4 linked regions of the Homo sapiens genome follow. The protein of the gene in region 2 interacts with the protein of the main gene of each other region in a pairwise test. Each region holds a gene or a part of one and is shown on either strand. Other genes may lie near its edges.

The links.
Region 1: the proteins of TNFRSF10D (region 2) and FAM114A1 interact in binary tests that used the Homo sapiens proteins (3 or more experiments, as listed by UniProt).
Region 3: the proteins of TNFRSF10D (region 2) and ECPAS interact in binary tests that used the Homo sapiens proteins (3 or more experiments, as listed by UniProt).
Region 4: the proteins of TNFRSF10D (region 2) and PITPNC1 interact in binary tests that used the Homo sapiens proteins (3 or more experiments, as listed by UniProt).

The regions. Positions count from the first base shown.
Region 1 is NC_000004.12:38,877,788-38,884,815, reverse strand, and holds part of FAM114A1 (protein NOXP20), read right to left. Parts: intron 6,746-7,028; 5' UTR 6,738-6,745; coding exon 6,390-6,737; intron 1-6,389. UniProt on the Homo sapiens protein: May play a role in neuronal cell development.
Region 2 is NC_000008.11:23,154,005-23,161,032, forward strand, and holds part of TNFRSF10D (tumor necrosis factor receptor superfamily member 10D precursor), read right to left. Parts: intron 976-7,028; coding exon 870-975; intron 1-869. UniProt on the Homo sapiens protein: Receptor for the cytotoxic ligand TRAIL. Contains a truncated death domain and hence is not capable of inducing apoptosis but protects against TRAIL-mediated apoptosis. Reports are contradictory with regards to its ability to induce the NF-kappa-B pathway.
Region 3 is NC_000009.12:111,411,366-111,418,393, forward strand, and holds part of ECPAS (proteasome adapter and scaffold protein ECM29), read right to left. Parts: intron 6,642-7,028; coding exon 6,518-6,641; intron 4,988-6,517; coding exon 4,907-4,987; intron 3,287-4,906; coding exon 3,064-3,286; intron 2,622-3,063; coding exon 2,530-2,621; intron 784-2,529; coding exon 649-783; intron 1-648. UniProt on the Homo sapiens protein: Adapter/scaffolding protein that binds to the 26S proteasome, motor proteins and other compartment specific proteins. May couple the proteasome to different compartments including endosome, endoplasmic reticulum and centrosome.
Region 4 is NC_000017.11:67,667,262-67,674,289, reverse strand, and holds part of PITPNC1 (cytoplasmic phosphatidylinositol transfer protein 1), read right to left. Parts: intron 4,783-7,028; coding exon 4,627-4,782; intron 1-4,626.

The sequences.
Region 1 (7,028 bases), on a different chromosome or scaffold from region 2:
GCTATCAGGGAAGAAACCTTAGCTCTGAAATCCAGACAGTTGCCTTGAGTAAACCTTTCATTCAAGATGGTGATCAAAGCACCTAAACAATGGGATGTTCTCAAGCCTACATGAGAAAGAGTTCTCATACACCATTTTCAACTCTCTTGTTAATTACCGTTTCATTTAAAAATGTCAGTGTGGTACAATGTGATCTGAAACTTGATTTCGCTTATAGAATGTGGTAGTGGTGAGATTGTACTATAAATTCTTTGCTAGCTACCATAATCTATTTAAAAAGCAAAACAAAACCCTAAGAGCTGTGCCCAACCAAACTGGCTTAGAGACAGAAACCTTCCAGGGCTGAGGGCTTGGCCTCTGTTGTTATTTATATGTTAACACCTGAGCCATCTTACCCACTTCCATTACTGAAATAACCACATAGGTGCTGATAGCCTCTGAATCACCTATCTCTCCAGACCATTTTAACCAACTGTCCACAAAGTATCTTCACTTGGATGTTGCATGGCATATTTAATACTGAACTCAGGCCGGTGCGGTGGCTTGCGCCTATAATCCCAGCACTTTGGGAGGCTGAGGTGAGAGAAGAGCTTGAGTCTAGGAGTTTCAGACCTGCCTGGGCAACACAGGGAGACCCCGTCTCTACCAAAAACCAAAAACCAACTGAACTCACCATCTTCTCAATTATTCCCCGTACCCCAACTAGCTCTTGCTGTGTCCTAGTGTTAGTGGTTCCCAAACTCTAGTCCACAGACTGACTGTAAGAGTGTCACCTGGGGGAATTCATTAAAAATAGAGTCTCAGCTTCCACTATGATCTTGTGCCTAAGAATCTCTTAGGGTAGAGCCCAGGAATCTGAATTTTTAACAGGCTCCCCACATGATTCCAATACACCTCCAGATCTGGGAAGCACTGCTCTCTATGGCAGAATGGCACCTCCATCCACCTGGTTGTCCAAGCCAAAACTGGGTGTCACCGTTCAGGGAACACAGAATAAGGAACGTAGGCAGTAGGGAACTCTGTCCTTTTAGAGCAGGCCAAAAAGGGAAAATACTCAAACAGAACCGGAGAAAACTCTGCTCATCCGGTTTAGGAGGCTAAATGCTGTCATGTCTCAGCCTGTGTCCCCTACTCCTTGTCTCTCTTGACCATAACTTTATGGCATTTAAACATTCTGCTTCTCCTTTTTTAGGGAGAGAACTATCCATGGTGGTCCACACTCCCATGTTTTCCCATGAGAGTACTCAACAGTGTTAACATTGGGATTCTTGACCTTCTCCATAATCGGCCTTATGCGTTGGTGTTGAGCAGTAGGGATGACATTTTAAAAATTCTGGGTAACCTTTCTTGGTGTTAAGAATTCAGAGAAATTTAATCTAGATTGGGTCTTTTAAGGGTTGACTGGCTAGTATATAATAAGGTCCCATAAGAGCTCTGGGAACAAATGTTACTCCCAACCAGTACTCAAGACAAACATCTTTGAATTGAGGCTGAAGACTTCTCTGATTCTTTAAGACGAATTTAAATGCTCTGTCTAAAGCCTCCCTTGTGCCTGTCCTATCTAGTACTAGAGGACATGTAATCATTGCTCTCATACAACAATGTTTCCCCCAACTAGACTGTAGGCATCCTGAAGATAGTTACACCACCCAGATTTCTGGGCATAATGCATTGTGTCATGATGCTGGCAGAGGCCTTAGAGAATCCGGTCCAACCTCCAATGCTGAGGACCATTTCTCACGGAGGTTGTAGAGTGGGTTCCTACAGGAGAAGGCTCAATTCAATGGCTTCTGAGTCTGTATGTCAGAAAGGACAAGAAAGCAAAGAAGCCCTAAAGATAGAGATAGTTTATCCGAGTGCATAAATGGTGTGGTCCTTAAAAACAGAGGTGCCAGCCAGAAAGGTGGCCTCCTCCTTGACTCTGGCCACCTGCTAGTCGCAACACCCCATCTGCCAAGTTATGGTGGCCTTGCTGCCTGAGGCAAATGTGAGCCTAATGATGTGGATTTTAAGGGGATCCAGATCCAGGTACTTACAAATATATATGCATACACATACACACCACACACACATTTATGCGCATTATCACAAAATCTAATGTGCCTTAGAAGTACGTCCTCAAAGTCTATTCTGCCCGTTTTCTTTTTTTAGTAAAGCAAGCATTCCTCACAGAAACTTTTTTTTTTGAGATGGAGTTTCACTCTTGTTGCCCAGGCTGGAGTGCAATGGTGCAATCTCGGCTCACCGCAACCTCCGCCTCCCGGGTTCAAGTGATTCTCCTGCCTCAGCCTCTCGAGTAGCTGGGATTACAGGCATGCACTACCATGCCCAGCTAATTTTGTATTTTTAGCAGAGACGGGGTTTCTCCATATTGGTCAGGCTGGTCTCGAACTCCTGACCTCAGGTGATCCGGTCCCCTCGGCCTCCCAAAGTGCTGGGATTACAGGTGTGAGCCACTGCACCTGGTCAGAAACTTTTTTTTTTTTTTTTTTTTTTTGAGACGGAGTCTCGCTCTGTCGCCCAGGCCGGACTGCGGACTGCAGTGGTGCAATCTCGGCTCACTGCAAGCTCCGCTTCCCGGGTTCACGCCATTCTCCTGCCTCAGCCTCCCGAGTAGCTGGGACTACAGGCGCCCACCACCGCGCCCGGCTAATTTTTTGTATTTTTAGTAGAGACGGGGTTTCACCTTGTTAGCCAGGATGGTCTCGATCTCCTGACCTCATGATCCACCCGCCTCGGCCTCCCAAAGTGCTGGGATTACAGGCGTGAGCCACCGCGCCCGGCCCTGGTCAGAAACTTTTTTAAAGGGCTGATGAGAATTTATCAGGTGTAGATGTACATGGGGTCAAATAGGCTTTTGCACTTGGCTATTTTCCTGCAGAACCTGCCATTCCTCAGGGGCAGCCTGTGTTCAATCCAAACAACCACCTTGTAATGAACTTTAGATTCAAGAATTTGTTTTGTACAATTCACTCTGCTCTGGAGCAACAGGGAAAGAGTTGTTTTCATCAGTGCAAAATGATTTCTTATGAGTATGCAACAAGAGGCAAATAAAATAGAAAAAAATGAACAATAATCAAAGACTAGGCATAAAATTGACTTCTAATAAAAGGATAAGCTACTAAGAGAGACAGTAGAATCCCCTTTCCTGGTAATCTTTAAAAAGAGACTAAATTTGCACCTACGTAGAATGGTTTAAATAAGACCTGGGTGAAAGTGATATCCTCTCTTCCAGGCCCTTTCAGCCAACCTATCGGCTTTCCTGCCCTTCTTAAAACAAACTCACAGGTACTGTCCCCACTCCTTTGTTCCCTCTGAGCTTCTGACCCAACACAATACATCCAGAGCCACGGGCCCGACTCTGTGGCCAGTGTTTGCACTTCCATCCAGGTAATTCCGTGGTGCTCTATTATTAGGAATTTCTCCCCTTTCCAAGGTCCTTGAAATGCTGTCAGTGTTGTAGGGGGTGGGGAAGGTGGAGTACCTGTTACCAACCAGCTCAATTTCTGTAGCATTCAGGAGGTTTATAAGGTGTTTTCAAAGCAAGATTCATTCCATTTGACCAAAACATTTAAGGCAAATGTGGTAGAAGCATACTGATTTTTTTTTTTTTTGAGACAGAGTCTCGCTGTCACCCAGGCTGGAGTGCAGTGGCTCAATCTCAGCTCACTGCCTCAATCTCAGCTCACTGCAACCTTCACCTCCCAGGTTCAAGAGATTCTCCTGCCTCAGCCTCCCAAGCAGCTGGGACTACAGGCATGCACCACCACACCTGGCTAATTTTTGTGTTTTTAGTAGAGACGGGGTTTCACCATGTTGGCCAGGCTGGTCTCGAACTCCTGACCTCAAGTGATCCACCTGCCTCGTCCTCCCCAAGTGCTGGGATTACAGGCATGAGCCACCGTGCCCGGCCTTACTATGCTATCTTCATGAACAGTCCTGTTATAATTATTATGTCTGAAATTGGAATGTATATGGATTTTGAATTAGTATGGATTTTGAATTAGTAGAGCTTGTATAGTTTAAGTCATCTTAGGTGATAATGGTGTGGCTAAGTTATATTTTTCTTACTGTACCAAGATATTTGTTAACAGTAGCACTTAGGATGAAAATTGGGAACCATAGCTCCCTACATGAGACAGACAGTGTGGAGGCAAAGCAGGCTCTGGAGTCAGGAAGACTCTGTTCAAATCCTCACTCTGCCATTTCCTATTTGGGCTGATTCTTGACATAATCTAGTGGTCCATCTCTTCACCAATACCATGCAAACTGCCAAACCTGCGGCTTATTAATGTCCCACTTTTACTTCCTATGTGTTTTGTGGCTGTTATTGCTATTGTTGTTGTTCTAAGATCAATGGATGAAAAAGTGTCCTAGTAGCCAAAAGAATGAAAGGGCTTGTCTCCAGATACTTTTGAAGTGTTATTGTAGCACCACAGCATTTTAGAGCTGGAATGATACTGAAGACCACTTACTCAAAGAATCATAAAAAGGACTTTGAAAATTCTTTAGCCTAAACTAATTATTCTCAATCCTGGCCAAACATTACAACCACTTGGGGTACTTTTAAAAATTGCTGATGTCCAAGCCCCATTCCTGAATCAGAATCCTTGGGCTTGGGACCCTAGCATCAATATTTTCTATTCTATTCTATTCTATTCTATTCTATTCTATTCTATTCTATTCTATTCTATTCTATTCTATTCTACTCTATTTTATTTTATTTTATTTTATTTTATTTATTTTTTTGAGACAGAGTTTCACTGTCATTGCCCAGGCTGGAGTGCAATGGTGCAATCTCGGCTCACTGCAGCCTTGACCACCTGGGTTCAGGTGATCCTCCTGCCTCTTCCTAAGTAGCAGGGACTACAGGTGCATACTACCATGCCTGGCTAATTTTTTGTATTTTTCGTAGAGACAGGGTTCGCCACATTGCCCAGGCTTCAATACATTTTAAATCTCCCCCAGTGGTTGGTAACATTCAGCTGAAGTTGAGAACTTCTGGTCTAGGGGCCCTTAATTATTTAGGGCATCTATGGATGGCTTCAAAGGGTCAGCGACCTCTTGAAACTCATAAACAAAATTTTGTGTTATGTTTACCCTATCTGATTCAAACTCCCAGCTGGTCCTCAAATTGCTTCCATAACATCCCTACAAAATGACTGTTCAGCTTTTGTTTAAACACTTCCAGTGAAGGGAAACACCTTGCCCCTGAGGAAGCCCATCGCAGACAGTTCTGAGGGTCAAACCCCTTGAGAAAAGTGGGTGGGAGGGTAGCCCAATCTTGAATACAGGAGTCATAAAACATTAGTCAGAAGGATGCATCAAAGTCTTCATGTGAGAATTCTTCACTTCATAGAGGAAAAACCTGAAGCGCAGAGACATTAGTTTGTCTGGCCCAAGCTCATGGAGTTAATGATAGATTGGAGGGTGAATGCCCAGGGCCCCTAGTTCCCTGTTTAGTTCCTGTCCCTCACATCATGCTGCAGAGTCACCTCAAGGGGGTGATCTGTGGTGGCACACTTCAGGATGAACAGGGCTGGGCCTGGCTGAGGGAAGACCCCAATTCCTCCCTCCTGCACCACCCTTCTAGAAGGCAGTCCATTCCAGACAGGATGAGGAGAGCAGCCTGTCTCCTTCTTTAATGCGGGGCGTCTCCCACCCCTGCCCGGCCCCACATGGCTGGAGGTGAAAGCTCCAGGAAAACCCTGCTGGGATAGTCTTCTTGGTGGCCCAGGTGCCAACAGGGAGATCTGGCTTATCTCATACCCTGAGAGATAGGTGCAGGCACTGAAAGGGGAGGGGTGATGAGTGCATTCTGCCTCTGTTCCCCTGGAAGGTGATGTGTGATGATAAAACAGTGATCTGAAGGCTGAAGATCTCCACTATGGACTTGTAAATATACATCAGATTTTAAGTGATCTTAAAGAAACATTGACTTGTTTAGGGTGGAATCAGGCTTGTTAATTATCTGGAGTCATGATGTGTGATATTACAATGTTTTCCATTTACAACCAAGTAGCCCAGGACAAGCTACCACCTCTGAGCCTGGTTGCCACAGGTATAAGCTGGAGTTAGTAATACCCAGGTTTGAACTGTTGATGGAGTGAATTACATAACATAGAAAGTGGCTAGCAGAGTGCCTGGCACACGGCTTGTGTCTGATAATTGGTGGCTGTTACTGTTAATAATACACTTATCAAAATGCAAATATTATGACAAATTATTTTTATATATGTCTAATCTCACTACACATTTCTGATGACAGAGGGGATGTCACAGTACATTTTGAACTCCCAATTCCCACCCACAGAGCTTGGTGCTAGCTCTGCACACGGTAGATATAAGCAAGAACTTAGGCCGAAGTGAATTGAATGACCCATTCTTACCAGATAATTCTGTTCTTGCAGGGGTATTTCGGATCTGGGTTCTGCCTCAAGGCTGACGGAATCAATACATTCAGCAAGTGTATCCTCAGTCACGTCTCCATTGAGAGGGGGCTCCAGGGCGTTGGCATCCTGAGGCTGCACAGGGGGCCCAATGGCGGCAGCCCCTGCACCCTGCACAGCTGCATTTTCATGCCCCTCCCCTCTGGGGTCAGCTGGTGTTGGCTCATGTGAAACTGCAGCTGAATCACAATGCACTTCTGCATCCTCAGGTAAAGAATCACTATTAGGCATCTCAGTAACTTCTGCTTTGTCTCCAGTGGCTAAGGTGTCACCAGCATCATCAGACATTTTAGTATCTGTCAACACAATTATAAACACCTCATGCTTTCATCGAATTGTTAAGCTTCAATTCAAAGCCCTGGATAAATAAATCTGGTAGGGGAAAACTTTTTTTTTTTTTTTGAGACGGAGTTTCGCTCTTGTTGCCTAGGCTGGAGTGCAATGGCATGATCTCAGCTCACTGCAACCTCCGCCTCCCAGGTTCAAGCGATTCTCCTGCCTCAGCCTCCCGAGTAGCTGGGATTACAGGCATGTGCCACGACGCCTGGCTTATTTTGTGTTTTTAGTAGAAACGGGGTT
Region 2 (7,028 bases):
TAGTACATAGACACAATGGAATACTATTCAGCCTCAACAAAGAAGGAAATTCTGTCATTTGTGACAGCATGGATGAACCTGGAGATATCATGCTAAGTGAAATAAGCCAGGCACAGAGAGACAAACACCTCATGATCTCACATATGTGGAATCTTAAAACTTGATCTCATAGAGGTAGAGAGTAGAATGGTGATTACCAGCGCTGTATTTGCACGGTGGGTTGGAGAGATGCTGGTCAAAGGATACAAAATTTCAGTTAGACAGGGGGAAATAAATTCAAGAGATGTATTGTGTGACATGGTGACTACAGTTATTAAAACAATGTGTTGTACAGTCCTGCCTTCTATTCACAGGGAATATATTCCATGGAACAAACTCTGCACTTACACAAGTCCCTGATACAAATTGGGATAGTATTGCATACACCCCAGGTACATATGCTTTAAATCATTTCTAGGTTACTTGTAATACCTAATGCAATAGACATGCTATGTAAATAAGTGCTTTACTGCATTGCTTTTTATCTACTTTTATTGACATGTTATCATTTTCATTATTTTTTCCACATATTTTTGATCTGTGTTGGTTGCAACCACGGATGCAACACCCACAGATGAGGATGGCTACAGAACCCACAGGTGAGGAGGGCAAAGAGGGCTTATCCCAGGGCTCTGTATCCATACAGCTGAAAATTGCTGAGTAGACTTTTAAGTGTTCTTACAACAAATACACGATAAGTATGTGAATTAGCTTGATTTAGCCATTTCACAATGCGTGCATATTTCCAAACATCATGGTGTACACCATGAATATATACAATGTTTATCTGTCAACTAAAAATAAACTGATTTTTAAAAATAAGAGTGCACCTGCTGGACACTCCTCCTCCTTGAGGCTGCGCCTCTGTTGCTGTGGGGCCACTGTCTGCTGGGGAACTTCGTCCTGCCGGGGGATGGTGGCAGAGTCAACCCGGACCTGTGGGGACAAGGCAGAGATGGGCTTGAGTGGCTTCCAGACCTTACCTCTCCCAGGCTCCGTCTCACATTCCCTTCACCCCAAGTGACAAAACCCATGAGAGCCTGGACTTTTTTCCCATTCCAAACTTTCATTCTTTTGCATCCGTGTTTGTCCCCTGGCCTGTTAGGTAGCTATTTTCTATAAAGAAAAACACCTCCGTATCCTTTTATCATATTATAACATAAAATATATTTACCCCAGAAAATATGAGCAGAAGAGTTTTTTTTTTTTTTTGATAGAGTCTTGCTATGTTGCCCAGGCTAGAATGCAGTGTCTATTCACAGGTGTGATCATAGTCTACTACAGCCTGGAACTTCTGGCCTCAAGTGATCCTCCCGCCTCAGTCTCCCAAGCAAGTTGGGTAACAGGAACACACCACTGTAGTTGGCAAGAAAAGATTTTATAAGAACACAAAAGGCCAGGCGCGGTGGCTCAGGCCTGTAATCACAGCACTTTGGGAGGCCAAAGTGGGTGGATCATGAGGTCAGGAGATTGAGACCATCCTGGTTAACACAGTGAAACCCCGTCTCTACTAAAAATACAAAAAATTAGCTGGGCATGGTGGCGGGCACCTGTAACCCCAGCTACTTGGGAGGCTGAGGCAGGAGAACGGCGTGAACCCAGGAGGCGGAGCTTGCACTGCACTCCAGCCTGGGCGAAAGAGCGAGACTCTGTCTCAAAAAAAAAAACAAAAAACAAAAAACAAAAAAACCACACATATGAGCCCTTCAAGCAGAAATAGCATCTAATGTATTTAGTTTGACCAAGTGTTTAATTGACCAGTGGGTGAATATTCTCTCTCTCTCTCTCTCTCTCGCACACACACAGACACACACATAAAAATACACATTTTTACAAATGAGGGTTACAATATAACCTTAAAGAAAGTCAGGATATAGCATCAAACATTAAGTAATTTCTGCTTCACAAAGGACCTTGACAAGCTGTTCCCACTAAATATCAAAGAGTGACAGAAAAAGATAAAACAGCAATTCAGGGATTATGGCCATGATCTCTGTGTTATAAATGACGACGAGAAGACAACTGGAGAATCGGAATAGAGTCTGCATATTAGATAGTGGTAATGTGTTGATGTTAATTTCCTTGTTTGTAGAAAGTACACACTGAAAAATTCAATAATAGCTTTCATCATGCCAACAGCTATTTTTCAAATTTTTTTTGCATAGTTTTTGTAACTTTTAAGTTGGGAGTGTGTAAAAGTACAAAATTAATTTAATTGTAAATTTACATTTAATTAAATTTAATATAATCTTGCTCCTGAGAAAAAACAAAATGGTTACAATAAAAGCTACTTACCTTGGGCTCTGTTCAACTACCTGGCTCTCAGCAAGACAAAATGTAGCTTTCTTCCACATGAAAGCCTGCCTAGTAGTTGGTGACAGTGAAGCTAATGCACATTTCCCAAATCCTCCCTTCTAGAGCTGGGGTCCCTCTAGGTTCAGGCGATGTCTCTGTCACCTTTCTCTGCTCTCACACCCTTACTCCTTTTCAAGAGCAACTATTCATTTTCTCAACTCTTTTTTTTTTTTTTTCTTTTTTGGAGACGGGATCTCCCTCTGTCATCCAGGTTGGAGTGCAGTGGTGTAATCTCTGCTCACTACAATCTCTGCCTCCCGGGCTCAAGTGGTCCTCCAACCTCAGTCCCTAAGTGGCCGGGACCACAGACAGGAGAGTGCCCCAATGCCTGGGCTAATATTGGTGTATTTTATACAGCTGGGGTTTCATCACGTTGCCCAGGCTGGTCTAACTCCTGAGCTCAAGCGTTCTGCCTGCCTGAGCCTCCCAAAGTACTAGGATTACAGGCGTAAGCCACCACACACAGTCCGTTTTGTCAGTTCTTTTTGTGGTTTCTATTCTATTTCCTTGATTTATGTTCCTCCTTGTTACTTTGGTTTAAATTTATGCTTATATTTTATGATTGATTAATGTAGATCTTCAGGCCATAAATTTCACATATTTTTCTTTTTTTGACAGCTTTAACGAGACACAAATCACATAATTAGTAATTATGATTATTCATATAATTCACCCATTTAGTCTACATTTCAGTAGTTTTTTAATATACTCATAGCTATGCAATCATCACTATAATCAATCTTAGAATGTTTTTATCACTCCAGAAAGGAACTGCATACCCTTCAGGAGTAACTCCCCATCTCCCCAATTTTTTTAATAGACACATTGAAAGCTGTATTATTTCACTCCGAGCACTGTTAGCCATTTCCCACCAGTTTTGCTGTTATATTATTATTATTTATTTTGAAACATTTTACCTTCCCTTTTGATTTCTTCTCTGAACCACAGATTTTTTAGAAGTGTATTGTTCAATAACCAAATTTTAGAATTCCCTATGGATACTATTACTGACTTCCAGTCTCGTTTCATTAAGTTTAGAGGTCATATCGCGTGTTTTATATCCCAGAACCCAGTCTATCTTGGTGAAAGTATCATGAGCATAGAAAGGAATCAGTGTTCAGTGGATGTTCCACTCCTGCTCTTTAAATGTCAGTTAAGTCAAGGTGGTTGATAGTGTGCAGATCGCTTGCCACTTTACCGGGGTTTTCATCTGACCGTTCTGTCAATTACAGAGAAACAGCTGATTTAATCTCCTTTTCATTCTCTTTTTGCATCATGTGTTCTGCAGCTGTATTACTAGGCATATACAATTTGTGATTATTATTATACTCCTTGAAGAATTAACCTTTTTAACTACAAGGGTCCCTTTTGAGCTCCCATAATATTCTATGTCCTAAAATTGTTACAGTAGGCAGCTAGTCAGGTATGAGCAGGGTAGGAGAGGGCTCCCCGCTTCTGACACCAGCAGTGTTGGGCGACCATCAGGTGGTTGATAACCGTGTCTCTAAAGTAAGAACTGGTTACAGCCAATGCCAGAAAAAGGCAGTCTCCTAATACATAGAAAACACCTGAAACTGATCAGCAGCTTCCCAATAAGATTTCAGGAGTGGGGAGAAGTAAGGCAAGATCCTGGAAGTAGGCCAACCTATAAAACCCCAACTCAGGCAGTCCGGCTGTGCACTGTTTCTCAAGTCACCTGCTCGGCCATCTTTCAAGTTGTACTTTCCTTCTTTTCTTTCCGTTCCTTCCTTTCCTTCCTGTTCTAAAGCTTTTTTAATAAACTTTCACTCCTGCTCTGAAACTTGCCTCTGTCTCTCCTTCTGCCTTATGCCCCTCAGTCCAATTCTTTCTTCTCAGGAGGCGAAGAGCTGAAGGTGCTGTGGACCCATACGGATTCGCCGCCTTCAACGTAGGGTAACTCGGATCTCGTCCACCGCTAACAAAATCAACTTCATGTGATACTGAGATAGCCACGGCAGTTTTCTTGGCCTTACACTCTGCGTGGGGTATCTTTTTCCATCTATTTGCTTTCCACAGACAGCATCTGTGTCTTCCTTTTAAGGCCCATCTCATATAGACAAGATATAGCTGAGTCTTGTTTTTTCAGCCCTTCCAAACATTTCTACCATTGAACTGTAGTGCTCAGTGGATTTACAGGGAGTGCAATAATTGTTAGTCAAAATAGACCTATACGTTTACCATTTAAACTACGGTTGTCTAGTCTAATTTTTTTACTCCTTTTTCCCCTGCACATTTTAATGTTAATTACCTTTTAGAATTCCACTTTAACTGGGTACTGACTTTTTATGCATACCTATTTCCATGATCTATGTGCAAGTGCTATAGGGAATACAGTATACACTCAAGTGCTTATATTCTATTGAAGGTTTTTTTAAAATAGATTTATTGTGGTATAATGGATATGAAACAAAGTGTACATTTTTGAAGCATGTAGTTTGGTAGGTTGAGATGTACGTATACACTGTGGAACTATCGCCGCGATAAGATAATGACATGTCTACCGTCCTGCAGTGTTTCTTCATTTTTCAATGTAATCCTCTCTTCTGCTTTGCTCCTATGTCCCCAGCAATGCTTCTTCTGCTTTTTATCACAATAGATTAGTTGTATTTTAATAAGATGAGGAATCACATGGTATGCATTCTGCTTGTATTCCTTCACACGACATGATTTTCTGTGTGTGTGTGTGTGTCTGTGTCTGTGGTTTTTGGTTTTATTTTGGTTTTTGGTTTTGAGACAGCATTTTGCTATGTTTCCCAGGCCGGTCTTGAACTCCTGGGCTCTAAGGATGCACCCACCTGGGCAGGACTATACATGTGAGCCATCGCACCTGCCCACCCACCCTGGCCCATTGACTATTATCAGTTAAAGGCTACTGAAAAACAGCAGGCGCAATAAGATGCTTTGACCTCTTTTGTGTTTCCTAAAAGCAGGAGATGAAAGTCCCCAGGGAAACATAGGACGATCTCCTTATTTTTAAGGATGAGAAGTCGAGGCCAAGAGATTACTGTGCAGACCTTGTTAGAACAGAACCACTCAGCTTTTTAGCCTCCATATATTTACTAGCTTCTTCACAAGTTACTTGGTCCAATTCAATATATAAGTAACTGACTCTCACTGCTTCTCTGTGCTAGGTAAAACTTGCATTAAATAAATGTGTGTGTTGGCTGGGCATGGTGGCACACACCTGTAATCCCAGCATTTTGGAAGGCTGAGATGGGCGGATCACCTGAGCTCGACTTCGAGACCAGCCTGGACAACATGACAAAACCCCGTCTCTACTAAAAATACAAAAATTAGCCAGGCGCAAGGGTGGGCACCTGTAATCCCAAGGTACTCAGGAGGCTGAAGCAGGAGAATCGCTTGAATCTGGGAGGCGGAGGTTGCAGTGAGCCGAGATTGCACCACTGCACTCCAGCCTGGGTGACAGAACAATACTCCATCTCAAGAAAAAAGAAGTCGTACGTGCTTTTCTCCTGTGTACCTGTCTTATGTCAATTTAATTCTCAGGTCCAGCCAAAAAAAAAAAGCCCTTCAAGGGGAGCTTCGCTTCCCTCTATGACTCTCAATGGTGACTCTAACCAAACACCATCCTCCACGCCAACAATACCACATCCTATAGCCTTGCACCAACACGGCCTCTCTGGAGGAGGGGGAGGCAATGGTGGTGAGATATCAGGCCTCCCTCATGCTACCTCCTATTAGTTATATGATTCCTGGTGTCACCTCACCCACCACACTGTGGGCTCCAGGAAGCAGGATTCACATGGGGTTCATCTGTCCTCCCTGGCTCCAGCAGACTCCAAAGACAATAAAGAGCTCATTGTCTATTTCCTGGGTGACTCACTTTCCCCCCAAGCCCATGAGGTGAGCGCAGTGGCGGCCTCAGCTTACCACCTAAGGACAGGCTCCAGGCTGTGGCACAGGGAGGGGACTCCGAAGAGCCCTGTGGACTCTGCTGAGGACCCATAGGAGCTCCCAGAGGCCAAGTGCAGGACAGAGATCAGAGAAGCAGCTCCTCAGAGAACTCTAGCCCTTCAGAGGCCCAAATATGGCTGCTATTATTCAGAAGGTGAGGACAAAAATGCTGGAGACATTGCTCCTGAATCTCATTTTGCCACCTGTAAAACAGGGAAAACAACCTGCCCTCATGTCCCCTGGTTGTTAGGAAAATCCACTACACGAAGATGTACACTCTCTGGCTGGGAGCAGGATACCAGCTGCCCAACAGCACAGGCTCGGGGCATGGCACTGTCCCCACTGTCTCCATCCCCAACCTGGAAGCTAGAGCCTCGCTACCCTGCCACTCCTGGATACAGGACAGAGAACCAGAACTGGGACCGTGGCCTCTCAGTAGGGGCTGGGTGAGCAGCCATCTGCAGCCACCTGGATGGAGACCTTTCCTGCTCATCTTCAAACTCCAACCCGGGCCGGACACCCACCAGAAGCACAACTGGAAACTTGGCAGGTAAACCAGGCTGTGGCCCTGCAGTGCCATCGCTGTCCTCACTTGAACTCTGGCTCCTCTGTTCCTCGATGGCCCCTCCACATGGTGCTCCACCCCAGTCTTCAGAAGCTTCTGCCCCAAGGCCAGGGAGCCTGGTATGGAGGTGCAA
Region 3 (7,028 bases), on a different chromosome or scaffold from region 2:
TTTAAGATTTACATTCTGTAATTCCATGCCCACTCCAATTCCGGGTGAGATGACTTTCCTACATGCTCCTACATGCTCCCACGCCACTTTCCAGCTTACAGCACTTATGTAACTAGAATATCATAACTTTCACACATAATGTCTTCCTATTGCCAACAAAAGACAATAAACAGATCCTATTTCTAATTGCCAAAACCTCCAAACACAAGGTAACCAACAAACTATGTGAAGTAAAACTTGTTTTTTCACTGGCAGCAGTAGATGAGGAAGAAAAAAGGAGCTAACATTTCTCGCTTTCAGTACTCATCAGGCCCGACCCTGCTTAGTTTCCAAGATCAGATGAGATTAGGTGTGTTCACGGTGGTACGGCTGCAGGCTCTGAGCATCCTGTTGTACCAGGGATTCTCATGTATTTATGAATCACTGTACTCCTAGCACCTAAAACAGTGCTTATCAGACACAGCACCCGTATCTGTTAAGTGAGCTGACTGAACCAATGTATCACCTATCTCATTTACTCTTTATGGTCATAAAAGCAAGGAATTTGTAAGTTCATTTTACAAATGAGAACATAAAAGTCAAAAATAAGTTAGATCCTTTTATAAAACCCTATCTCCCACAAAAAAGAATGAAAACAAAATAACATACGTGATTGTCTTTTGTAGTCTTTATAAGCTGTTCTATCATTGATTTCAACTCATTCCCCGACACTGTTGATACCACTACAGAATAAAACAACGCTGCCAGTTCGCGCATTTCTTCTTTACTGTTATTCATCAGACTCTGAGCAGTATAAAAAAAAAACAAATATATACATGACACAGAACCACGTGCCTGATGACAACATCTTTTAAAATTAAAAGAACGTTCAATCTGTTGATGGATATTGAGAAAAAAACAAGCCATTATTTGAAAACAAAATGAAAGCTGAATGAATTAGATAACAAAATCTTAGGTCCATTTTCGTCAAAGATACACAAGTACAAAACAGGTGAAATTTATTCACAGATGATCTAAAACAAGGGTCAGCAAACTTCTGTAAAAAAACAAAAAGGCTTTATGGGCCATTTGGTCTCTGCTGCAACTACTCCACTCTGCCACTGCAGTACAAAGGCAGCAACAGACAATACACAATGAATGAGCGTGGCTGGGTTCCAGTAAAACATGGACACGACAATGTTTGTGTCATGAAACATTATTCGTTTCTTGATTTTTTTTTCCACATTTAAAAATGTAAAAACCATTCTTAGCTTGCAAACCATACAAAAACAGGAGGCAGGCCCTATTTGGACCTTTGACTATAGCATGACAACCTCTCATCTAAAACATCAAAGTTCAATAAAATCATTTTAAAATCAGTCAATATTCATAAGAAATAAAAAAACCTTTTTAAACTAAAAGCAATTTCATAAGACCAGACTATCCAGAAATGTGCAAAACTCACACCTCCTGGCAAATTTCATTCATGTTTTCACACTTAAAGACATAATTTTTACATTTTTACCATCATTCAAGCTGTATTTTCCAAAAAAAGAACCGCAATATGTAGCACATGGAGATACAGAAAACTGTATGGGCCAACACTTATACAAAAAAAAAAATTATTCATTATTTATCTGAAATTCAAATTTAACTGAGTATCTTGTATTTTTATTTTCCAAACCTGGCATCCCTTTTGGTGTGGCCATGGGACAGGGACACCCTCATACATGACTGTTAGAAGTGTACATTGGTACCACACACGGAGGGTGTGGCATTACCTATGAAAATTACAAAAACACATGTCCTCTGATACAGCTATTCCACTTCTAGGGAATCCATCTAAAACATATACTTCCTCAATATGCAAGATGATAGATTATTCATTGCAGCAGAATGGAAGTACTCTAAATGACCATCTATAAAGATCTAGAATACATGATAGTACATTCATACAATAAAAACTGAGGCTGTTAAAGAAGATGCTCTCTCCATAGTTGTAGTGGAATAGTTCTCTACTATTAAGTGAAAGAATGTATAAAACAGTATGAATAGTATGCTGCTTTTGATAAAAAGATGGGACAAAAATTTTAAATGCATGTTTTTATGTGTATGTACATAAGTAAACTCTAGAAAGCATGCCATATATAAGTGGTCACTTATATATGTTTGTCAGAGGGGAGAGGAAAGGACAAAAATTAGAAGGCTTGGGTAGGTTGGAGATGGTTACGGAAAGGAGACATTTTACATAGTTTTTATTTAAACTACACAAATCTATTGCTTATTTTTTCAAAAAAAAAAAACTTTTGAAACAGAAAAGGAACTTTTTTTTACTCCTATGCTTCTCAATTCATCTCCCAATCTCCTCCAGATGTGTCAATGAGACATAGTGACCTACATGCTTCCCAGTAAGTGTCTGATGATAAGAGAGTTTTCAAAACGACCTAAAGGCAGAAAAGGTCATAGGGATCCCGCTGGCAGGAAAAAGAAATCATGAAGTTAAGGTCTGAAATAGAATTTTTTTTAAAAAAAGGTACATGCAGAACATACCTTTATCCATTCTGTTTTGTCTACAAATTTGGTAGCCAGCTTTTCTGGATACACTGACACAGCTTCCAATAGACAGTACATAACCGGCAAACCTAAATAAGAATTCAGAATCACCTTAAATTTCAAGAAAAGTAATGAACATACAGGGATCACTAAATTCCTTTAAAGTATAAGGCCACTGCTTTAGCACACATTCTTTCGGTTCTATTAAAAAAAAAAAAAAGAAAACCTACACAACCTAAATATAGTATGTGATTCACTACAGCAAATTTACAGATGAGCTATCTATAAAAAGGATATCCTGTTCTTCACATCCACTTCCGAAGTAAAAATGTATTTATCTATTGTTAGCATTTCTTTCCGAAAAAAGAAGTAGTGTATCCAGAATGAATCAGGTAAGTTTAAAAAGAAACAAAGGCTAATGTTCAGTTACAGAAGAAAAAGAATAATTTTGCTATAAATTCTTAGCAAAGTTTAAAATTAGATTTTTGCTTAAGTGCTTCAGTATCTTTCCTTCGCGTCACATATTCCTACCTCCAACACCTGCTAACAGCTGCTGAAGCAGGCCAATGTAGATCTGGACAGGGTTAGTCTCCCCACTCTTGTTAGATGATGAGGGTGCCATCTGCCCGCTTGACATTAAAGTCCGTATGTAGCGCCCAATGGCTGGGGCATGATCCTGCATATCAGCCAAACTCTGAGAGGTGGGCACCACCCCCGCACTGTGCGCAAGGCACATGCGCAAGTACAGAACGATCTACAAACAGAACGGAGAGGAAGACTGCATAAGCTTCTCGAAAAGTCAGTGTGGGAAGGTACTCTTCAAAGTAACAATTTCTAGTTTTGATTCACCCACACTTCTTTATAAAGCTATTCCAATCCTCATGGAAGGCAGAAAATATGCCATAATGGAGCAAAATTTGTATAATAAGGTTTGCAAATCCAAAGAATTTTTTAAGATTGTTAAAATACAAACTGAACTTTTAAAGTCAGAAATTGGAGCTGGAGGCTGTTATCCTTAGCAAACTAACGCAGGAACAGAAAATCAAATACCACATGTTCTCACTTATAAGTGGGAGTTAGATGATAAGAACTTCTGAACGCAAAGAAGCAAACAACAGACACTGGGGTATACTTGAGGAGAGAGGGTGGGAGGAGGGAGAGGAGCAGAAAAGATAACTATGGGGTATTGGGCTTAATATCTGGGTAATGAAATAGTATATACAACAAACCCCCATGACACATATTTACCTATATAACAAACCTTCACATGTACCCTCGAACCTAAAATAAAAGTTAAAAATTATAATAAAAATCATTATTTTTTAAAAGCCGTGTGTGTGTGTGTGTGTGTGTGTGAGAGAGAGAGAAAGACAGAGAGAGAGGAAAGAAATCTGAAGTAAATGGCCTATTACTCCTGCAGAATTCCAGTTGTGTTTACTCCATTGACACAAGAATCTGAGAAAATGGGTTCAATTCATCTACAGAAAAATAGATATAACACCATAAAAACCTCTGATATAGACCAGACACAGTGGCTCACGCCTGTAATCCCAACACTTTGGGAGGCTGAGGCAGGAGGACTGCTTTAGCTCAGGAGTTCAAGACCAGCCTGGGAAACATGGTGAAACCCATCTCTACCAAAAAGATAACAGAATTAGCCAGGGGTGGTGGTGCACGCCTGTAGTCATGGCTACTCAGGAGACTGGGACGGAGGTTCACTTGAGCCCAGGAGGCAAGGTTGCAATGAACCGAGATCACGCCATTCACTGTACTCCAGCACGGGCAACAGAGTGAGACTCCTTCTCAAAAAAAAAAAAAACCAAACAAACAAAAAAAACAACCCTTACATAAACAGGCTGCCAAGGAGTCCATCCTCTGGAAGCTTTTTCATTGATCGTTAAAATAGGATAGGCAGCAAATTCACTGTGAATATTCTTAATCCGAACAAGATCACCTCTTGTAATTTACCTAGAGCAAGTCAATAATCTAAAAAACAGAATTTCCCTTAATAAGTGTGATCAATTTAATCCTCTCCAACCTTCAAAACTAAATAACCCTAACAACCTCAACAACAGGTTGGCTTTAAAACCCAAATCTAACTTGCTGCAAAATCCCAATAGTAATCACTACAGAACATCCAGTTTTTTCACAAAAAGAATCTCACTGAGATAAATATATTTACATACTTCACTATGAATTAAAATAATACCAATTTCCCAATACTTTTTTTTTAAATAAACAACCCGATGAAGAACAATGACACCACAATATGGGTTTACCTAAAACACAACAAAATGACAGACCCCTCTTTGGGTGTGGTGTGATCTTTTTAGAACACTTACAAAAAGTAAATAGAAATATATGAAAGTTCTACCTCTCCAAAGGCTGCTGGGTTAAATGGAAGGACAGTGGTCCCGGTCATGTACTTGACTGGAGTTTTCATTCGATGAGAAGCCTAAGTTTAAAAAGTCCAAAACAGACACAATTACTGAAAAATGAAGCATACCTGCCCTTCCTCAACTCAAAAACAACTGTGTTTCTAGCTACATGTCCTAAGTTTGCTTCTTTTTCTGATCAAACATTTTCCACTTTCCTATTAACCATGCTGATCGTGCATGTCCCTCACACACTAAAAGACAAGTGTATTGCCCTTTTTCCATGTTTGTTCTGGTTTGTTTAAAAATAATAAACCTATTCCAGACATCTACTAATATGGTCATCTCAGGTCACTGCATGCCAGTTATTTTCATTAATAATCAAAGTAGGAGGAAACTACAAGCAGAGAATCTTCTGACCACAAATAGACTGTGCTGCTATGTGGAAAACAGAATCATGGCCGCTGCATACTGACCTTCAACTCCCTTAAGGTGCCTACCTAGCAAAGAGCTAGGATCACCAGTGGAGGTAAAAGGTAGGAAGGTGTCCTCCGGCAAAGTGGGACAGAGTCAAGGCCTGGAGGGGGTGGATGGTCATTACTGCCAATATCCTGGATCTACTAGCAGAAAACACTGTGCAAAAGCAAAAACTTACAAAAGCAGATGGGATGCTCTCTTATGAACACGGTGGGAAGAACATGAACTGTTCCCTGAAGCATCCTTAAACTTACACTACCCTAAAGCGTGCCCTTAAAAATAAAAAGGAGAACCAGCGTGGGCAATATAGCAAAACTCTGTCTCTACAAAAAATAAAAAAATTAGCCAGGCACGGTGGTGCACGCCTGTAGTCCCAGCTATCGGGAGGCTGAGGAGGGTGGATCACTTGAGTCTGGGACGTGGAGGTTTTAGTGAACTGAGACCACACCACTGCACTCTAGCCTGGGTGACCAGAGCAAGACCCTGTCTCAAAAAAAAATAAAAAAATTTTAAAAAAAGGAGATGTATTTTTAAGCATGTCATATTAAGGGAAAAAATATTTAACACAGCCAAAATGTTGCCAAGCATGAAAGGAATTATAAGTAATTCAAGTTTAGGCAAAACAGATCAATTACAGGTGAGGATTACAATTTTTTTTCCTCACTTTGTATCTTCTTCTTATTGTAAGTATTAATGCTAGAAACTTTATGAGTCAGCTGGGCATGGTGGTTCATGCCTGTAAACCTAGCACTTTGGGAGGCCAAGGCAGGTGGATCACCTGAGGTCAGGAGTTCAAGACCAGCCTGGCCAACATGGTGAAACACTGTTTCTACTAAAAATACAAAAAATTAACCGGGCTTGGTGGCAGGCGCCTATAATCCCAGCTATTCAGGAGCTGGGGCAGGAGAATCACTTGAACCCAGGTAGTGGAGTTTGCAGTGAGCCAAGACCGTGCCATTGCACTCCAGCCTGGGCAACAAGAGCGAAGCTCCATCTCAAAAAAAAAAAAGAAAAGAAAAGAAAAAGAAATTTTATGAGTCAACATCTAGTGATTACATTTTTCACTTTAAAGATGTTTTTATTTTCATCATCCATTATGATTTAGACTAATTACCTTAAGTTGCATGCCATACCTTTTCTTGGATGTAATAAACCATTTCTGGGAAGGAAGGCATCTGCTCAGAAGTACTTTCTTTTCTGTTTCTACCTGGAAGACACCTTAATACGCGTTGTGCTTCTCCATGAACTTCTTCACGTCTTTCAGAAAAAGACAAATAAGAATAAAAAATAAATGTCACCAATGGGAAATGATCATTTGAAGAATAAGAACAGCAATTTTATTTGGCAGCTAGAGTTCTCAGAAAATGTCTTAAATACATTCTTGGCTATCTAAGCAGAGTCAACATAACACATTATAAGAAATCACTTCTTTTCAGAAATTGCATGAGGTCCGGGGACTCATCTGGCTTACATCTTTGAATTTGACTCACATTAAAAAACAAGATAGGGTACTTTAAGTAAATTATTATGTAAATATCTATGTGTATGCTTTACCTCGTAGAGTTAAACCATAAACAACTATAATACATATTTTAGAAGTCAGTGACTATCCAGTGGTCTACACACTCCACCCAAAGTCTTACA
Region 4 (7,028 bases), on a different chromosome or scaffold from region 2:
TCGAGCAGTTCACCTGTCTTGGCCTCCCAAAGTGCTGGGATTACAGGTGTGAGCCACTTCACCCAGCCTGATTCAATTTTTTAATTGTACATTTTAAAATAACTTAAGAGTGTAATTGGATTCTTTGTAACACAAAGGATAAATGCTGGAGGGGATGGATACCCCATTCCTCACATTGTGCCTATTTCACATTGCAGGCCTTATGAAAACATCTCATGTACCCCCTAAATGTTTACACCTACTATGTACCCACAAAAAATTATTTAAAAAATAAATATTGATTCAATTTTTCTTTTTATCTTTTTTTTTTTTTTTTTTTTTTTGAGACGGAGTCTCGCTCTGTCCCCTAGGCTGGAGTGCAGTGGCGCCATCTCGGCTCACTGCGATCTCGGCTCACTGTAACCTCCGCTTCCCTGGTTCAAGTGATTCTCCTGCCTCAGCCTCCTGAGTAGCTGGGATTACAGGTGCCTGTCACCATGCCCGGCTAATTTTTGTATTTTTTTAGTAGAGACGGGGTTTCACCATGTTGGTCAGGCTGGTCTCGAACCCCTGATCTTGTGATCTGCCTGCCTCGGCCTCCCAAAGTGCTGGGATTACAGGCATGAGCCACCACGCCTGGCCTCAATTTTTAAACAAGCATAAATGAATGTGTGAGATACAAGATAAGTAAATATCCTTTTAGGTTTGACTTTCATGTAATAGAAGAGGGGGAAAAAGGCCGTTTACCATTGAAAGGATGAAAAAAGAGACCTGAACTAGAATAGAACGTAATGGGAATGACAAGCTTGACTGGACACAAAAAGGATGAAATTGTTTCTTATGGTGACACATAATGGCAATAGAAGGCTAAGGAAAATAGTATATACCATTTGTGTGTGTGTGTGTGTCTGCGTGTGTGAGATACTGTTCATGTGTTTTTATTTCATGGTATTCTTTTCCATCCTGGGTAAATATGTCTTTTTACATTTCTTGGATACTCACAGTATCCCTGTAACATTCCTTTCTTCCTGCCAAACAAATCCAGTGATTGTGAAAAACCTCTCGTGGAAGGTTCAAGCATGTTTCAATAAATGAAGGATTTTAATTCAGTGAATTTGCAGAAACAAGGAAAGCATTTATAATGAAGTGTTTATGACTCCAGGCCTCTGGATATCTAGTGAGGCTTTTATGACTTGAAAGTAGGAAACACATAATGAATACAAGAAACAACACACAGCTATACACACTTGAGTGCTGAGTGTCTCAAATTCATGGAAATCAAAAGAACAGCATCGAGGCATCAGTAAATGTACCCTATTACACGAAGCACAACACAGCTGTCGGCTGGAAACCAGAATTCAATAATGTGCTCATGGCTCGCTTTCGAACATTTTTTTCCCCTTAACTGTGAATAGATTCTTAAAAAAACAAAGGTGTTCAGAGAAAGGCATCCCTGGCACCTTCAACCCATGCAAATGCTAGCCTCAGATACTCATTAGCGACTCACGTGCGAGAGCAGGTGCGTTTCTGGAGTGTCAATAACACTTCCTTATATTTGGAAAGGGCAAGGCATAAATCTTACAGGTATTTTCAGGAAACAGATTCTCAAAACTAGCCTGAGTCATCTGTGAGAAAAGAAACACAGTGGACCCTGGGGCAATATAAATATGGCCTTTTAAATTATTATTATTATTATTATTATTATTATTTTGGAGACAGAGTCTTGCTCTGTCCCCCAGGCTGTAGTGCAGTGGCGCGACCTAGGCTCACTGCAACCTCTACTTCCTGGGTTCAAGTGATTCTCCTGCCTCGGCCTCTGGAGTAGCTGGGACTACAGTCACCTGTCACCACGCCCAGCTAATTTTTGTATTTTTAGTAGAGATGAGAGTTCACCATGTTGGCCAGGCTGGTCTCGAACTACTCCTGACCTCAAGTGATCTGCCTGCCTCGGCCTCTCAAAGTGCTGGGATTACAGGTGTGAACCACGCCCAGCCTTATTTTTATTTTGTATTATTCTCTTTTTAACTGACAACTCTGCCTTATTAAATATGCTTTGTGAGTGGAAAACACACTATGAAGCCGGGCATGGTGGCTCACGACTGTAAACCCAGTACTTTGGGAGGCCGAGGCAGGCAAATCACTTAAGGTTAGGAGTTCGAGACTGGCCTGGCTAACATGGTGAAACCCCGTCTCTACTAATAATACAAAAGTTAGCCTGGTGTGGTGGCATGCACCTGTGCCTCAGCTACTCAGGAGGCTCAGGCACAAGAATTGCTTGAACCTGGGAGGTGGAGGTTGCAGTGAGCCGAGATCATGTCACTGCACTCCAGCCTGGGCAACAGATTGAGACTCCATCTCAAAAAAACAAAACAAAACAAAATAATACTATGATAGTGGCCCTAGTAAGAGGAAGTCTTTTTACCTTAAAAAGCCACACACAAAAAGGGATGCTGTGGGAAACCAAGGAAGACACTGCCTTAGATAGACACAAAGCTGAGGCTGGAAAACATTTACTTTGGGAGCTGCAATTGCTTTCCTGTGCAATAATCAGGACACAGGAGGAAAACAGGAGATCCTGGAGCTTGATTTCTACGTATCACATTTCATTCTGGCTCCTGGCTGGCTGGCTGGGTTCTGGAGCACGGGAAAGGAGTGGCATGCTTCTCTGTTCAAGAAAACACCCAGGGCTCTCATGTTTGTGCCAGAGTCTGCCATTACCGTGAGCCTGAGTTATGAGGGTTCAAGAGACTGGCAGTCTAGTTCTTGGACCTAAATTCCAGAATTAAACTTTTTATTGTTAACTGGCCCCCAATCTCAATAGACAAATCCATCTAAGTAACAAAAAGCTCAGTGCATTAAGGTTAAATTCCAGTGACTCCAAAATAATTTTGGCAAGCTACTCTTATCAGTTTTTAAGTGGAAAAATAAACAGATAACCAGCCTATCTGGAATGTAGAGACAATTTGGGTAGTATTTATTCTTATGAAAATGAGAGCAGCTACAAAGGGCAATGCTCAACATTGCATTTCCCATTTTTTTCTCCCATGAGGGACAGAGTCATGTTAGAAACCCTGAGAAAATATGACTCTTCACCAAGTGGGATTCTGCTACAAAATGAACATGCCGGCCGGGCACGGTGGGTCATGTCTGTAATCCCAGCACTTTGGGAGGCCGAGGCAGATAGATCAGGAGGTCAAGAGATCGAGACCATCCCTGCCAACATGGTGAAACTCCATCTCTACTAAAAATACAAAAATTAGCTGGGCATGGTGGCGTGCGCACCTCCCAGTAGTCCCAGCTACTCGGGAGGCTGAGGCAGGATAATCACTTGAACCCGGGAGGCAGAGGTTGCAGTGAGCTGAGATTGTGCCACTGTACTCCAGCCTGGCGACAGAGTGAGACTCCGTCTCAAAACAACAGCAGCAGCAACAACAACAAAAAACCAAAATGAACATGTTTAGCCAAAGTAGGTTTACAATTGAAATCTGCATCCCGAGGCTGTTAACAATTATTTGGTAACAGAATTATTCTTATTATTTCCTTTTTTTTTTTTTTTTTTTGAGATGGAGTCTTGCTCTGTCACCCAGGCTGGAGTGCAGCAGCACGATCTTGGCTCACTGCAACCTCTGCCTCCTGGGTTCAAGCAATTCTCCCTGCCTCAGCCTCCTGAGTAGCTGGGATTATAGGCACGTGCCACCACACCCGGCTAATTTTTTTGTATTTTTAGCAGAGACAGGGTTTCACCAGGTTGGCCAGGCTGGTCTCGAACTCCTGACCTCAAGTGATCCACCTGCCTCAGCCTCCCAAAGGGCTGGTATTACAGGCATGAGCCACCACACCTGGCTACTTTAGTAACAGAATTATTAAAGAAGCAGAAATGCTGGGGTATACTGTCTAATGGGACTATTGGGATTTCTTGTTCTACCTCTGGGCATCTTCTGCTTAGGTGCTTACATTTGTAGATCTTTTGGGTGGCAATTAACCTTAGGGGCTGTGCTCACAGATAAGCCCTTTGGCTGTTTCCCAAGTTTCTCTGTCTGGGAGTAGATGAGTCCAATACCAAACTGAGAAGTGTGTTTCCCAAATACGCTTGCCTAATAGACATGGAGGTCACAGAATGAGAGATGGGGCATAAAACATCTATTAGTGGAAGAAAATTGAACCTATGCATAAAATGCATTTTCATCCAAAAAGTATTTTTTATTTTTTTATTTTTTATTTTTATTTCTTATTTTTTGAGACAGAGTTTCTCTCTTATTGCCCAGGCTGGAGTGCAATAATACGATCTTGGTTCACTGCAATCTCTGCCTCCCGGGTTCAAGTAATTCTCCTGCCTCAGCCTCCTGAGTAGCTGGGTTACAGGCACCCACCACCATGCCCAGCTAATGTTTTTGTATTTTTAGTAGAGACAGGGTTTCACCATGTTGGCCAGGCCGGTCTTGAACTCTTGGCCTCAAGTGATCTACCCGCCTCGGCCTCCCAAAGTGCTAGGATTACAGGTGTTGGCCACCCCAACCGGCCCAAAAAGTGTTTTTGAGATGCAGTGACCTGATGTATTTGTGCACCTGTTGTGTATCATGGACTCCAATTTGGCAATATAGACAGTTACCTTGTCCACAGCCCAGGAACTGCTGTTGGACCACTTACCTTGTGTACAAATTGTTCCACTCTGGTCTGAAGCCCCCAGACCTCAAACTTCACAGTCACCAGCTTGTAGGAGCACATGATAGGCTGATGACTATCTCTCCAGCCTTCCCTCAACTGTCCCCGTCCTGTCTTCTCTGACTTGAAGTGCTTAGGATCCTAGAAAAAAAAAAATCAAAGAAATTGATATATTAAAAGTTTGACCATCATTATTAAATGTCAGGAATAAGTATTAAATAACATAGAAATAGGGCTGGGTGTGGTGGCTCACGCCTGTAATCCCAGCACTTTGGGAGGCTGAGGCGGGCGGATCACCTGAGGTCGGGAGTTCAAGACCAGCCTGACCAACATGGAGAAACCCCATCTCTACTAAAAATACAAAAATTAGCTGGGCATGGTGGTAATCCCACCTACTGCCTATCATCCCAGCTACTCGGGAGGCTAAGGCAGGAGAATTGCTTGAACCCGAGAGGCAGAGGTTGTGGTGAGCCAAGATTGCGCCATTGCACTCTAGCCTAGGTAACAAGAGCGAAACTCCATCTCAAAAACAAACAAACAAACATAGAGACAGAAAGTAGATTAGTAGTTGACATGGATTGAGGAAAGGAAGGGATGTAGAGTGATTATGAATGGATATAACATTTCCTCTTGGAGTGATGAAAACATTCTGGTATTAGACAGTGGTGACAGTTGCACAACCTTGTGCATATGCGAAAAACCACTGAATTGCACATTTATTTAAAAGGGTGAATTATATTGTGTCTCAATTTTTTCTTTTCTCTTTTTTTCTTTCTTTCTTTTTTTTGAGATGGAGTCTCGCTCTGTCGCCCAGGCTGGAGTGCAGTGGTGCGATCTCGGCTCACTGCAAGCTCCACCTCCCGGGTTCACGCCATTCTCCTGTCTTAGCCTCCCGAGTAGCTGGGACTACAGGTGCCCGCCACCACGCCTGGCTAATTTTTTTGTTTTTAGTAGAGACGGGGTTTCACTGTGTTAGCCAGGATGGTCTCGATCTCCTGACCTCGTGATCTGCCCGCCTCGGCCTCCCAAAGTGCTGGGATTACAGGTGTGAGCCACCGTGCCTGGCCTCAATTTTTTCTTTTCTTCTTTTGTAGAGATGGGTCTCACTATGTTGCCCAGGCTGGTCTCCAACTTCTCACCTCAAGTGATCCTCCCTTCTTGGCCTCCCAAAGTACTGGGATTACAGGTGTGAGCCACCATACCTGGCCTCACGACAGCTTTAAATACAGGAGGCAAAAACTGGAAACAGTCCAAATGTTCATAAGCAAGAAACTAGACAGATAAATTGTGGTCTAGGTGCACAATGGAATACTACACAGCAATGAAAAAGAACAAATGGCTGATACATGCAAAAACGTGTACAACTCTCACTGATGCTATGTTAAGCAAAAGTAGCCAAATGCAATAGCATATACATTGTATGATTCAAATTGAAGTTCAAGAACAAGCAAAACTTTATGTATGGTGATAAAAGTTAGATGAGCAGTAATCTCTTTGGGGGTGGGGGCTTGGTGCAAAGGGACATGAAGGAAACTTCTGGGATGATTATATGTTGACCTGGATGTAACGTGTACACATTCACTGAGTTTTACACTTAAGATTTGTATTATACTTCAATTACAAGAATGAAAAAAACAGGTAAAAGGGTTTTTTTGTTGTTGTTGTTTTTGAGATGGAGTCTTGCTCTGTCACCCAGGCTGGAGTGCAGTGGTTTGATCTTGGCTCACCCCAACCTCTGCCTCCTGAGTTCAAGCAATTCTCCTGCCTCAACCTCCTAAGTAGCTGGGATCACAGGCACCCGCCACCATGCCCAGCTAATTTTTGTATTTTTAATAGAGACCGGGTTTTGCCATGTTGGCCAGGCTGGTCTCGAACTCCTGAACGCGAGTGATCCACCCACCTTGGCCTCCCAAAGTGCTAGGCCTCCCAAAGTACAAGCATGAACCACTGTGCCCAGCAAGGGTTTTTTTTTTTTTTTAAGTTTAATCATCCAATATTTGTCTAATGATTGCCATTAGCCAATCATTTGCTGATTATTTCATTAGAAGATTATTTTTTTCAGAGATACCTTAGAACATGTAAACTATATAAAACCCAGTAATTATGCTTAAATATGTATGTATGAGCTAATTTTCAGTACTTTTTTTTTTTTTTTTTTGAGAAAGGATCATGGCTCACTGCGGCCTTGACCTCCCAGGCTCAAGTAATCCTCCTGCCTCAGCCTCCCAAGTAGCTGGGACTACAGGTGCACACTACCATGCCTGGCTAATTTTTGTATTTTTTGTAGAGATGGGGTATTGCCATGTTGCCCAGGCTAGTCTCAAGCTCCTAGGCTTAAGTGATCTGCCCACCTCGGCCTCCCAGAGTGCTGGTATTAAAGGCGTGGG